3 linked regions of the Homo sapiens genome follow. The gene in region 2 interacts genetically with the main gene of each other region. Each region holds a gene or a part of one and is shown on either strand. Other genes may lie near its edges.

The links.
Region 1: changes in FLT3 (region 2) and PCDHA3 together harm fitness less than expected from each alone (positive genetic interaction), as found in Homo sapiens cells (one study listed by BioGRID).
Region 3: changes in FLT3 (region 2) and GAGE12G together harm fitness less than expected from each alone (positive genetic interaction), as found in Homo sapiens cells (one study listed by BioGRID).

Annotation. Positions count from the first base shown.
Region 1 is NC_000005.10:140,799,411-140,803,163, reverse strand, and holds the start of PCDHA3 (protocadherin alpha-3 isoform 1 precursor), read right to left. Parts: upstream 2,108-3,753; 5' UTR 1,967-2,107; coding exon 1-1,966. UniProt on the Homo sapiens protein: Potential calcium-dependent cell-adhesion protein. May be involved in the establishment and maintenance of specific neuronal connections in the brain.
Region 2 is NC_000013.11:28,052,077-28,055,729, forward strand, and holds part of FLT3 (receptor-type tyrosine-protein kinase FLT3 precursor), read right to left. Parts: intron 848-3,653; exon of another isoform or gene 756-847; intron 599-755; coding exon 469-598; intron 1-468. UniProt on the Homo sapiens protein: Tyrosine-protein kinase that acts as a cell-surface receptor for the cytokine FLT3LG and regulates differentiation, proliferation and survival of hematopoietic progenitor cells and of dendritic cells.
Region 3 is NC_000023.11:49,568,897-49,572,649, forward strand, and holds the start of GAGE12G (G antigen 12G), read left to right. Parts: upstream 1-1,503; 5' UTR 1,504-1,611; intron 1,612-2,650; 5' UTR 2,651-2,658; coding exon 2,659-2,742; intron 2,743-3,207; coding exon 3,208-3,328; intron 3,329-3,753.

The sequences.
Region 1 (3,753 bases), on a different chromosome or scaffold from region 2:
CACCGTGGTCCTTCACCAGCACCAGTAGGCGATGGCGCGGGGCGTCCACCTCGTCCAGGGCACGGGTCGTGCTGATCTCTCCCGTGTACAGCCCCACGCGAAACGGGATGCGCGCACCGCCGGTCCCAGGCTGCAGCTCATACGAAAGCCACGCGTTGTAGCCTGAGTCTGCATCCACTGCGCGCACCTTCGCTACCACGTGGCCCGCACCCACTGACCGCGGCACCAGCTCGCTCACTGCGCCACCGATGCCACCCACCCGAGGCATCAGCAGTGCCGGCGCGTTGTCGTTCTCGTCCAGCACGAACACCTGCAGCGTCACGTTGCTGCCCAGAGGCGGCACGCCCGCATCGCGCGCACTCACCTGGAACTGCAGCAGCTCTAGCTCCTCGTGGTCCAGCGGCTGCAGCGCGTACACCTTGCCGCTCTCCGCGTGTACCGACACGTAGCTCGACAGCGCGCGCTCCCCCACCCGCCGTTCCACCAGCGAGTAGGACACCAGGGCGTTCTCCTGCGCGTCCGCGTCCCGCGCAGACACCGTGAAGATGTGGCAGCCCGGCGGGTTGTTCTCCTTCACGAACACCGTGTACTCGGACTGCGAGAATGCCGGCGCATTGTCGTTCACGTCGGCCACCTCCACGGACACGCTGGCCGTGGCCCACAGTGAAGGCGAGCCCCCGTCCCGAGCAGTCACCACCAGCTCATAGGCCGACACGCTCTCGCGGTCCAGAGGGCTGTCCAGCACCAATGAGTAGTAATTCTTGAAGGTGGACACCAGCTTGAAGGGGACGTGGGGCGTCAGCGAGCAGGTGACCTGTCCATTGACTCCTGAGTCGCGGTCGGACACGCTGATCAGAGCGATGACTGTGCTAAGTGGAGAGTCTTCTAATACAGGTAAAGATAGTGATTGAATAACTAACTCAGGTACATTATCATTGATGTCCACAATTTCGAGTAGAACTGTGCAGTGATCTGACATTGGGGGATTTCCTTTATCCGTGGCTTCTACCTGGATTTCATATGACTTACTTTCCTCGAAATCTATGTTACCCTTTACACTGATTTGTCCATTGACTGGATCTAAATGGAATTTTGACAGAATATCTGCTGACATGTCCGTATTGAAAGAATACGCGATATCCTTATTTACTCCTTCATCCAAATCGGTGGCGTTAACGGTCACCACTAGGGTACCATTTGGTGCATTTTCGAGTAATCTGACTTTATAGATCGTCCTCTCAAACGCTGGGGCGTTGTCGTTTACATCTAAAACAGTGATCTTTAGTTGAGTCGTGCCAGTGAGCTCTGGTTTCCCACCATCAATTGCTGTTATTAGTAAATAATGCTTAGGAGTGTCCTCTCGATTTAAATTTTTTTTCAACACGAGTCCAAGGGATTTAATTTCCTCATCATTTCTTTTAACGTCCAAGGTAAAATATTCAGTGGAATCAAGACTGTAAGTCAACAACGAATTTGTTCCGATATCTGCATCTGATGCGCCCTCTAGCGAAAACCGAGAGCCAGGCTGTCGGGATTCGGAAATAAACAGATTCTTTACAGCCATTGGAAAAACTGGCGCGTTGTCATTAATGTCCTTCACTTCCACCTCCACATGGAAAACCTGCAGCGGCCTGTCCACGATCACCTCCAGGTGGATGCTGCACTCCGCGCTCCGCCCGCACAGTTCCTCGCGGTCTATCCGAGAATTCACAAACAAAATGCCATTCTGCAGATTTACCTCCAGAAGGTCCCCGTGTCTTTTGGACGCCACCCGGAACAGGCGCGGCACCAGCTCCGCCAGCTCCAGCCCCAGGTCCTGCGCGATGCGGCCCACGAAGGTGCCATGCTTGGCCTCCTCAGAGACGGAGTAGTGGAGCTGGCCGCTCCCCACCTCCGAGGCTGCGAGGAGCAGAAGAGAAAGCAGCAGGCACTGGGCTCCAGGATCTTCTCGCCAGGAGAACAACATTGCAAGTATTTTCCAAATATTAGATTGCCTTTACATTGATCCAAAGTTTAAAAATAATTCGAGTTCCTTATCTTCATTTCTTAAACTCCTCGGTGTTAAATTTTAGAGAGGATGAAGCAAAGCAGTATCTGAATACGTAATGCACGCTGTTATTTCTTTTGTGGAGAAAGACCTTGTGGTGGACAGCGACATCATGTGGCTAAACGTGTAAGTATTAAATATGTAAACGTATCTTCTTTTCCTTGTATGTCGTTTGAACTTTCCCAAAATTTCTAGTTTCAATTGTAATATCCTTCGGTCACTCCTCAAAGTCCTTATATTTTATCTAAATATTTCCTTAGAACTTTTATACTAATTCACTATCAATTGTGCTAATTCATGACATACACTAAAATATTGTGATTCCTGTTTTAACAGTGGACATCTATTGGAAATATTTCCCATGTGACAGCCACTTTTCTATTTGTCTTAATGGAATTATCCCGTTAAATTATCACAATCCTCTGAAATAAGTTTTAATATTATTCGCTTTTTATAAACACATAGAGGTTAAGTAAAACGATATTATCTCTTGGTACGATGGGATTTCAATCTGATTCAAGACAACTTACCATTAACCTCTTTACCACCCAAGTTACATTTTATAGAAAAATCAGATCCTTTCAGATTTATGATCATCAAAACATTGAGATGTTGAAGTATTTAAAAGTGTGTGTGTGCTGTATATATTAAAACATACATATATCTACTTTTATGTTATTACAGCAACTGTTAATTTCTTAAAATATGTACATTTATGGTTTTTTAAATTTGTAGAATGTCTGTAATTCCCTCCCATGCCCCTTTTTCAAGAACTATAGCCTCATCAACTGTCTTGACTGTAACTTACATAAAGATTTCAGAAGTCGGTCCTTTACAGAGAAATTCAAACAGGAAATTTGTTTCCTATTGTGGGAATGTGATTTGTATATTTGTTACACTCACATCACATCAATTAAGAATATATTAGGTTTAATTTTTCCACACTCTTTATGTATTTGAATTTACCTGTATATACTAAAATGTTAACAATATAAAGTAATTACGTTTTTGATGATCTCCACTCCTGATGAATTTCTAGATTCCAGTTTTTTTAAAAGTTGTTACTTGAAAGAATTGATTATTTAACTAAACAGTGAAGGGAGAAAAGTAACCTAGGAACATAAGCCAGTATTTACTCAACATATTTAACACTAAGCAATAAAACATTCTAAAGATATCTGTGAATTCAATGAGAAGCATGAATTCTCGCCGCATTTGGAAGTGGGGCAAAGAAAATTTATGGAAAGAGGTCAAATTTAGAGAAATAAAATAATGTACAAATTTTTGCTTATACCCAGACCATTTAAAAATGAAATCAAACATGTGATTTAAATATTTAGGGGAAAAGTTTTCATTTCAGCTTTTGTTTCCTGTGTATTCATGAAATGGAAGCCAGGACTGCAACTTACTCAGATTTTATCATTCATATTTAGAATAGGATAAATTATCAATTGTTGTTTTCATGAATAAATAAATTAATATTTTGAATTAACTTTTTCAAGCAAGATAAATAAAAATGTAAGTTAATGATATTTGTTAATATCAAACTTACATAATTTCTAAATGATTATATTGTGCTATATTATGAAGAAGTAAGTAAACATTTAAGCATTATTTCTGAAAAGCATGGACCTAAGAAATAATTATAGCTATTAATATTCCAGTTACCACTTTGCTGAATTTTTAAAGATGGTAGCTAGTTTGAA
Region 2 (3,653 bases):
TATTTTATTTTTTTAATTTTATTTATTTATTTTTTGAGACGGAGTTTCGCTCTTGTTGCCCAGGCTGGAGTGCAATGGCGTGATCTTGGCTCACCACAACCTTTGCCTCCCAGGTTCAAGAGATTCTCCTGCCTCAGCCTCCAGAGTAGCTGGTATTTTAGGTGCCTGCCACCACACCCAGTTAATTTTTTGTATTTTTAGTAGAGATGGGGTTTCACCATGTTGGCCAGGCTGGTCTCAAACTCCTGACCTCAAGTGATCTGTCCACCTTGGCCTCCCGAAATGCTGGGATTACAGGCGTGAGCCACTTCACCCGGCCCTATACTGGCCATTTTTTAACTTTAAGAAGCCAAAGTTTCCTGTTTAAATGAGCATAAATTAAATTTTACATACAGCTTGATGTCAACTACATTAGAAAAAGGCCAAAAGGAAATTATGAGAATAGCAGCTACCATGGATGTGTCATACCTTTCCCCCTGTGAATCGCAAAGCACCCATTCCACGATCGGCTCTGGAACGCTCTCAGATATGCAGACCAGGGCGTCCTGGTTTTCCATTTTTCTAAAGTAAGGTCTTCTTAATGTGTAAAGCAGGGTATCTAAAGCATCATAAGTTATTAACATTTTACTATTTTAAAAATAATTCTCTTAGCAGCCCCTCAGAAAAGGATTCTATGTCATTATGAAAAGTTCTCAACCATTACGTATACATATTTTTTTCTTTTTTCATAATAAAGGCATCAAAAGCAAACCAACCATTATATTAAATTTAGCTGTGGCTGCAGTGTCAACTTGAACATTTCTCCTCTTGGCCAATTTCTTTGGGTATTTCACAAATCCACAGCTAACTAAAGTAGTCGAGTGAAGCCATGTGAAAATACAAATATTGATAGGCACAGGAAAAAGGAAATTAGCAATAACATATGGCTTAAACCCTTGTTTAACACATAGTTTAGACCTCAACTTTCTTCCTATAATTTGATCTGCAACTAGGCAGAAATATACTAAGATTTAGAAAGACAGAAGAAACATGGTAGGGTGGAGTTGGAATTGCAACAGAACTTAAGAGGTTTAGTTGAGCCTCCCACTCACCCTGGATCACACACACACACACACACACACCATCCTTCACTCCCAGCTATTTCTAACATAAACTTTCTACTTCTACTTTGACTCTTCTAGAGACTGGAGTTCATGACCTCCCAGGGCAGGTCATTCTAATTTCTGACAAACTTTTTTTTTTTTAAAGAAAGTTTCCCTATACTGAATTCCAGCCTCTCTCCTTACAATAAATTTTGTTTGAAAATACTATGTACTGTTTGATATATATATATATATATGAAAGAATATATGGAGTGTAAATTTCAAAGCATAACAACAACAAATACCCACGGAGCCACTATCCACCTAATAACTAGAATATTAATAAATACCTTTTGATCTACTTTTATGCTTCTCCCCACCTCTCAACTGCACGTATCCTTTATCCTGAATTTTGTTGATTATTCGAGGACTCTTCAAAGTAGTTATACCAAATAAATATGTGGCACTAAACAATATATTGATTTTTTCATTCTTGAGCTTCAAAATAGTGTTATCAATCAATATGTAACTTCTACAACTTCATTTTTTCATCCAACCTTATGTTTTTAAAATTCATCCATGGTTTTACATGTAGCTATACTTTATTCATTTTTTTTTTTACTGCTACATAATATTCTATTGGTAAATATATCATTATTTTTTCATTTTCTTGCAGTAGACATTTGGGTTGTTTCCTTCCGTGTGTGTGTGTGAGACAGGGTCTCTGTCACCCAGGCTGGAGTGCAGTGGTGCAATCTCAGCTCACTACAGCCTCAACCTCCCAGGCTCAAGTGATCTTCCTGCCTTGGCCTCCCAAAGTGCTTGGATTACAGGTATGAGCCACCACACCCGGCCACAGTTTTTTGTATGATCAACCATGTGCTCTGAACATTCTACACATTTGTACTGAGGCATGTGTATAACAGTTTCCTTAATAACATTCTTAAGAGTGGAACTGCTGGTCTACATGGTATGAGCACATTCAGCCTTACACATAATGATCATTTGTTTTCCAAAGTGGTTATACTAATTTATGTTACACAGCAGGATATGAGAGCACCTATTGCTTTATAGACTTACCAAGACTTCTTAATTTTCAGCAATCCAGCAAGTATAAAATGGTATTTCATTGTGGTCTTAATTTAATTTCTCCATTATTAATTTAACATGTGTTAAAATAATTAATTGGGAGTCCATTAGGCTGAGACAACTCTAACAGCTTGAGTTCCTAGGTAAACAAATCACAACACAACTCAAAAAAAAAAAAAGGAAAAGAATAAAGGCCGGGCAAGGTGGCTCACGCCTGTAATCCCAGCACTTAGGGAGGGTGAGGCGGGAGGATCGCTTGAGCCCAGGAGTTCGAGACCAGCCTAGGTAACATGCCAAAACCCCGTCTCTACAAAAACAACAACAACAAAAAGCAAAAAACAAACCCAATTCAATATGAGCAGCAAAATGCAACTTAGCTTAATCAATGAGGAACTGCAAACTGACCAATCCAGGGACTGTCCTTCTTTAAACAATCAAATTTTTTCTTTGTCTTGCTTCCGGGAACACATTATAGAAAGAAGTCTTACCCTTGAATCTCCTCACTGGAGCCCACCTGCTTGCCATCTGGTACTGCCTGATTCATGAATTGCTTTCTGCTCAAATATACTCTTTACAACTTTAAAGTGCCTAAGTTTATCTTTTAACATGTTTCTTGACCATTTAGGTTTCATGTTCCAAAAATGAAATGCCTACTCATGTCCTTTGTTCATTGCTCTACTAGGTTTTCATTTTGTTCGTTTTTCTTATTGACTTATTGACTTATATAGATTGTTTATCTTATTGACTTTACATATTATGACTATTAATCCTTTGTTGATTGTGAACTGCAAGTATTTTTTCCCATCTTGAGGTGATTTTTACTTTTTCTCCCTGTAATTTCTAACAATTGGTTCTTATCATATCCTCTAGAGCAACTTTTTTAAAGTCTAGCTTTGATTCCATATGAAAATCTTTCAAATATTTAAAATCAGAAACCGAGATCAAGGGAGATAATTACCATACAAGGTACTTTAACTAGTTAGCTCAGGTTTCCTGACTCAAATCCCAAAAGAATTTCCTCTGCATTACACTGCAATCAATCTTATCGTCTCCTCAAAACATTTCCTTCTATATACTACACATTCCCAATTCCTTCAACTGCTCCTAATTTAAAGAATTCCAAGTTTTCCACTATCCTGGTTGCTCATTTTGTCAGTATTCATCTTTAAAAAAGTAGAACTGAAATGAATAAGCTTCTATTAATTTCCTTAATTTAGACGTTATATTTTCATGAACACTGCCAAGGTTCAAATTTACTTTTTTGGCAACCATGCCACGCTGGTGGTTAATACTGAGCTTGTGGTTGACTAAACCCTTTCCTCTTTTTCACACTGACTGTTGCCACATCTCTCCCACCTATTTTTTGGATCCCACCACCTTGCAGAATGCTAAAAATAAGTTATAATTTACCTGAATAACTGTTGTTACATTTTTACATTGTAAATCTTAAGTGAAAGGAATATACCCTAAGTATAACAGAGA
Region 3 (3,753 bases), on a different chromosome or scaffold from region 2:
ATTACTGGCGTGGGCCACCGTGGCGGGCCCGTCATTGCCATTGTAAAGAGTTTTATTTCCTTTTCTGATTTTATGGCATTGCGCAGACCCACCCGTTACAATGGTGACAGTGGACATCCTTGTCTTATCCCTGATGAGAAACCGAAAAATTTCAACATTTCACCATCCTATTCACTCTCCTTTTTTTGTAGACGGACTTTATCAGAGTGAGTCATTGCATTCTGTTCCAAATTTGCTGAGAGTATTCATTTGAATATATGTTGATTTTCATCAAACAGTGCATCTATTTCGATTACCACAGCGTTTTTTCCCATTCATGTGTTAATATAGTGAATTCGATTGATAAATTTGTACGTTTTTAGGTTCGATTATTAAAACTTGAGACAGCGTCTCACTCTGTCACCGAGGCTGGAGTGCGGTGGTGTTATCAGAGCTCGCTGCAGCCTTGACCTGCTGGGCTCAAGCGCGCCTCCCACCTCAGCCTCCTGAGGAGCTGTGAGTATAGGTACATGCCACCATGCCCAGCTAATTTTTCGATGGTTTTTTGTTTGTTTTTTGTAGTGATGAGATTTTCTGATGTTGCTTAGGCTGGTCTCGAAGTCCTGAGCTCAGGTGATCTGGCCAGCTCAGCCTCCCAAAATACTAGGATTACAGGCGTGAGCCTTGGCCTGGTCTGGTTTTTCTTATATAGGGGTCTTATCTATATAAAGACTAAAGTTAATCTGTGCCTTTGTGCGGGTGGGCTAAGAGCATGATGACTTTTATCATTCTATTGATTTAAAGAAAACTGTCCTTGACTTACCAGTGTGTAAGTCCATGAAAGCATAATTCTGTTGAAAGCATATATTGTTAATGGGTGTTGGGAACCGTGCACTTTCCGCTGCTGTGGGAGCATGTCCTTGGAGGTACCTTTCATCTGTTTTCTCAACTCCAAACATCTTAGGACCATGGGTTGTGACTGGTAGGACTATGTATCTTGCTGCTTTCAAGACGGAGTATATTTTCACGTGGTGTCACTCTGGCTGTCCTGTTTCCCTAATACTGTCACTTCACCCTCTGCGATTCTGATGCTACAAATGATAGATATCGTTTTAGCATTTTCTTACGGGTCCTAGCGATTCTATTCATTTTTCTTTCAGTCTCTTTCTCTGACTTGTTCACATTGAACAATTTCCTTTTGGGATAGGTTGCTATTTCTGTTTTCGCAGGTGGTTTACCTGTCTTCCCAGCCAGTCACAGTGGTCCTTGTCCCCATGGTGGGTCCGGGGCAAGAGAGGGCCCTGGGTTGGGGGTGGGGTTCAGTTGAAGATGGGGTGAGTTTTGAGGGGAGCACTACTTGAGTCCCAGAGGCATAGGAAACAGCAGAGGGAGGTGGGATTCCCTTATCCTCAATGAGGATGGGCATGGAGGGTTTGGGGCGTGGCGCTGGGAACGGCAGCCCTCCCCAGCCCACAGCCGCGCATGCTCCCTGGGCTCCCGCCTCAGTGCGCATGTTCACTGGGCGTCTTCTGCCCGGCCCCTTCGCCCACGTGAAGAACGCCAGGGAGCTGTGAGGCAGTGCTGTGTGGTTCCTGCCGTCCGGACTCTTTTTCCTCTACTGAGATTCATCTGGTAGGTGTGCAGGCCAGTCATCCCGGGGGCTGAAGTGTGAGTGAGGGTGGAGAGGGCCTCGGGTGGGTCAGGCGGGTCCCGCTTCCTGGTCTGTGGCCTCCGAGGGAGAAGGGCCACGAGGTCGTCCTCCTTCCCTTCACAGGCTGCGAGGCCACCGGCGGCTTCGTGGTCGTGAAGGGGCCTGGACGGGGAGGAAGGTGGGCCGTGGAGGGGAGGCGGTCAGGGGCTCAGGTGAAGACGGGGTGAGTGCTGTTGGGGGGATGGAAGTCCCGAGGTGCCGGGATCCCCGACGACACAGGGCAGATTCCCTGAATGGGGCCCCCGGCGGGGGCGAGGCGGGCGGTGAAGAAGGGGCCTGGCACCTGGGAAGGCTGCGGCCTGGCGAGCGCCCCCTCAGCGGTGTGGAGTGCGGAGCGCCCGAGTGAGAAGCACTGCAAGGTCTCACCTCCGCCATGGAAGGTCCGAAAACAGTGGGAAGGAGTGGGCGAGGCAGTGCGGTCCAACCAAACTTGTTGTGAGTGGGGGTGAATGGCTCTAGGAAGTGGGAGTGTGCCCAAAGCAGCAATCACGAGAATTGTGATTCACTAGGGTTTTCGTGGGGAGTGCACTTGTGAAACTAAACCTCATCAGAAATGACCTCTGTCTGCGGGGCGCAGTGGCGCTCGCCTACGTATTCCCAGTTACTGGGGACACTGAGGTGGGAGGATCCCTTGAGCGGGAGGTCGAGGCTGCAGTGAGCTGTGATCACGCCGCTGCACTCCAGCCTGAGCAACACAGCGAGACCGCGTGTCCAAAAGAAATTTAGAAAAAAATGTCCTCTGCCTTTTGCCACACGCCTTAAGATGATTGCTCTGCCAGCCTGGCCAGCAGAAGTGGCTTTGTAGGCACTCAGACAGCGTACACACGTATGCTTAACTCTGGGACTTATTTTGAGAGTATTTTCAAAAGTAAAACGGCAAGTTAACATTTATCCATGGAAGTGATCGAATATAGCAGCCCTCTGGAGCGCACGTTCCCAATCACGGTTGTCTGTTTTCAGTGTGAAATATGAGTTGGCGAGGAAGATCGACCTATTATTGGCCTAGACCAAGGCGCTATGTACAGCCTCCTGAAATGATTGGGCCTATGCGGGTGAGTGCTTAAACGTTAATTCGATGTTTTCTATTAGTAGAAATTAATTTTTGTGATAGCGTCGTTGCATTAGTGTGGAAATGCTGATAAAGGTCTTTCCTGCTCATAAAAAATGAGGATGGCATCTCATGAAGGAAACATTGATTCTGGAGGATTTTTTTTTTCCTCTCGTGTTCTTCAGCTTTTGCCCATGACTTCTTTCTCCGGCTTTGTTTGTTAATGACAGATTGTACACATGTATTCCAACACAGAGTATAATAGCCCCCAAAGTCCTCGTGCGTCACTTTTCTCACAGTAACCTCCCTGTGGGTGGAGTAACCTTATTGGGCATAGAGCATAGAGTTGGAGAAATGTCTTTAGGCTTAGTTAGGACCAGAAATAGCTATGTATTCTGTGTATATATGTAAAATTTTGTATCAATAACGAAACTTATTTTCTATTTGCACACCCACACGTATTCCCCAGCCCGAGCAGTTCAGTGATGAAGTGGAACCAGCAACACCTGAAGAAGGGGAACCAGCAACTCAACGTCAGGATCCTGCAGCTGCTCAGGAGGGAGAGGATGAGGGAGCATCTGCAGGTCAAGGTGAGGGAAAGGGAAGAAGAACGTCTGCTGGTGTGTGCGTGTGTGTGTGTTCGTGTGTGTGTGTGCACGTGTGTGTGTGTTAGGCATTGTCACATAGGAGGAAGAGGAGGAAAGAAAACAATGGAAAGAATGCCTGAAATTGACTGGAAAAGCGAGGAGGCTATGTAGTTTGCAGCTTAGCTTAGGCAAATCCCTCACTATGATAAAAGTTCTCGACTTTATGAATGAGAGAATGGAGGTGCCAGGATTGTGTGTTATCCAAGAACCCTTGACTGGTGAATACAACATTTGTACTGTGTTCTAAGGTTTGTGTCTTCCTATCATGTATGTTGCTGGAAAGAAGGAAGTGATTTTGCTGAAAATGCTTAAAACTCAAAAGGCTTTACTGTAAGGTAGCTTAGTACTGACCCAAGAATAGACCCAGT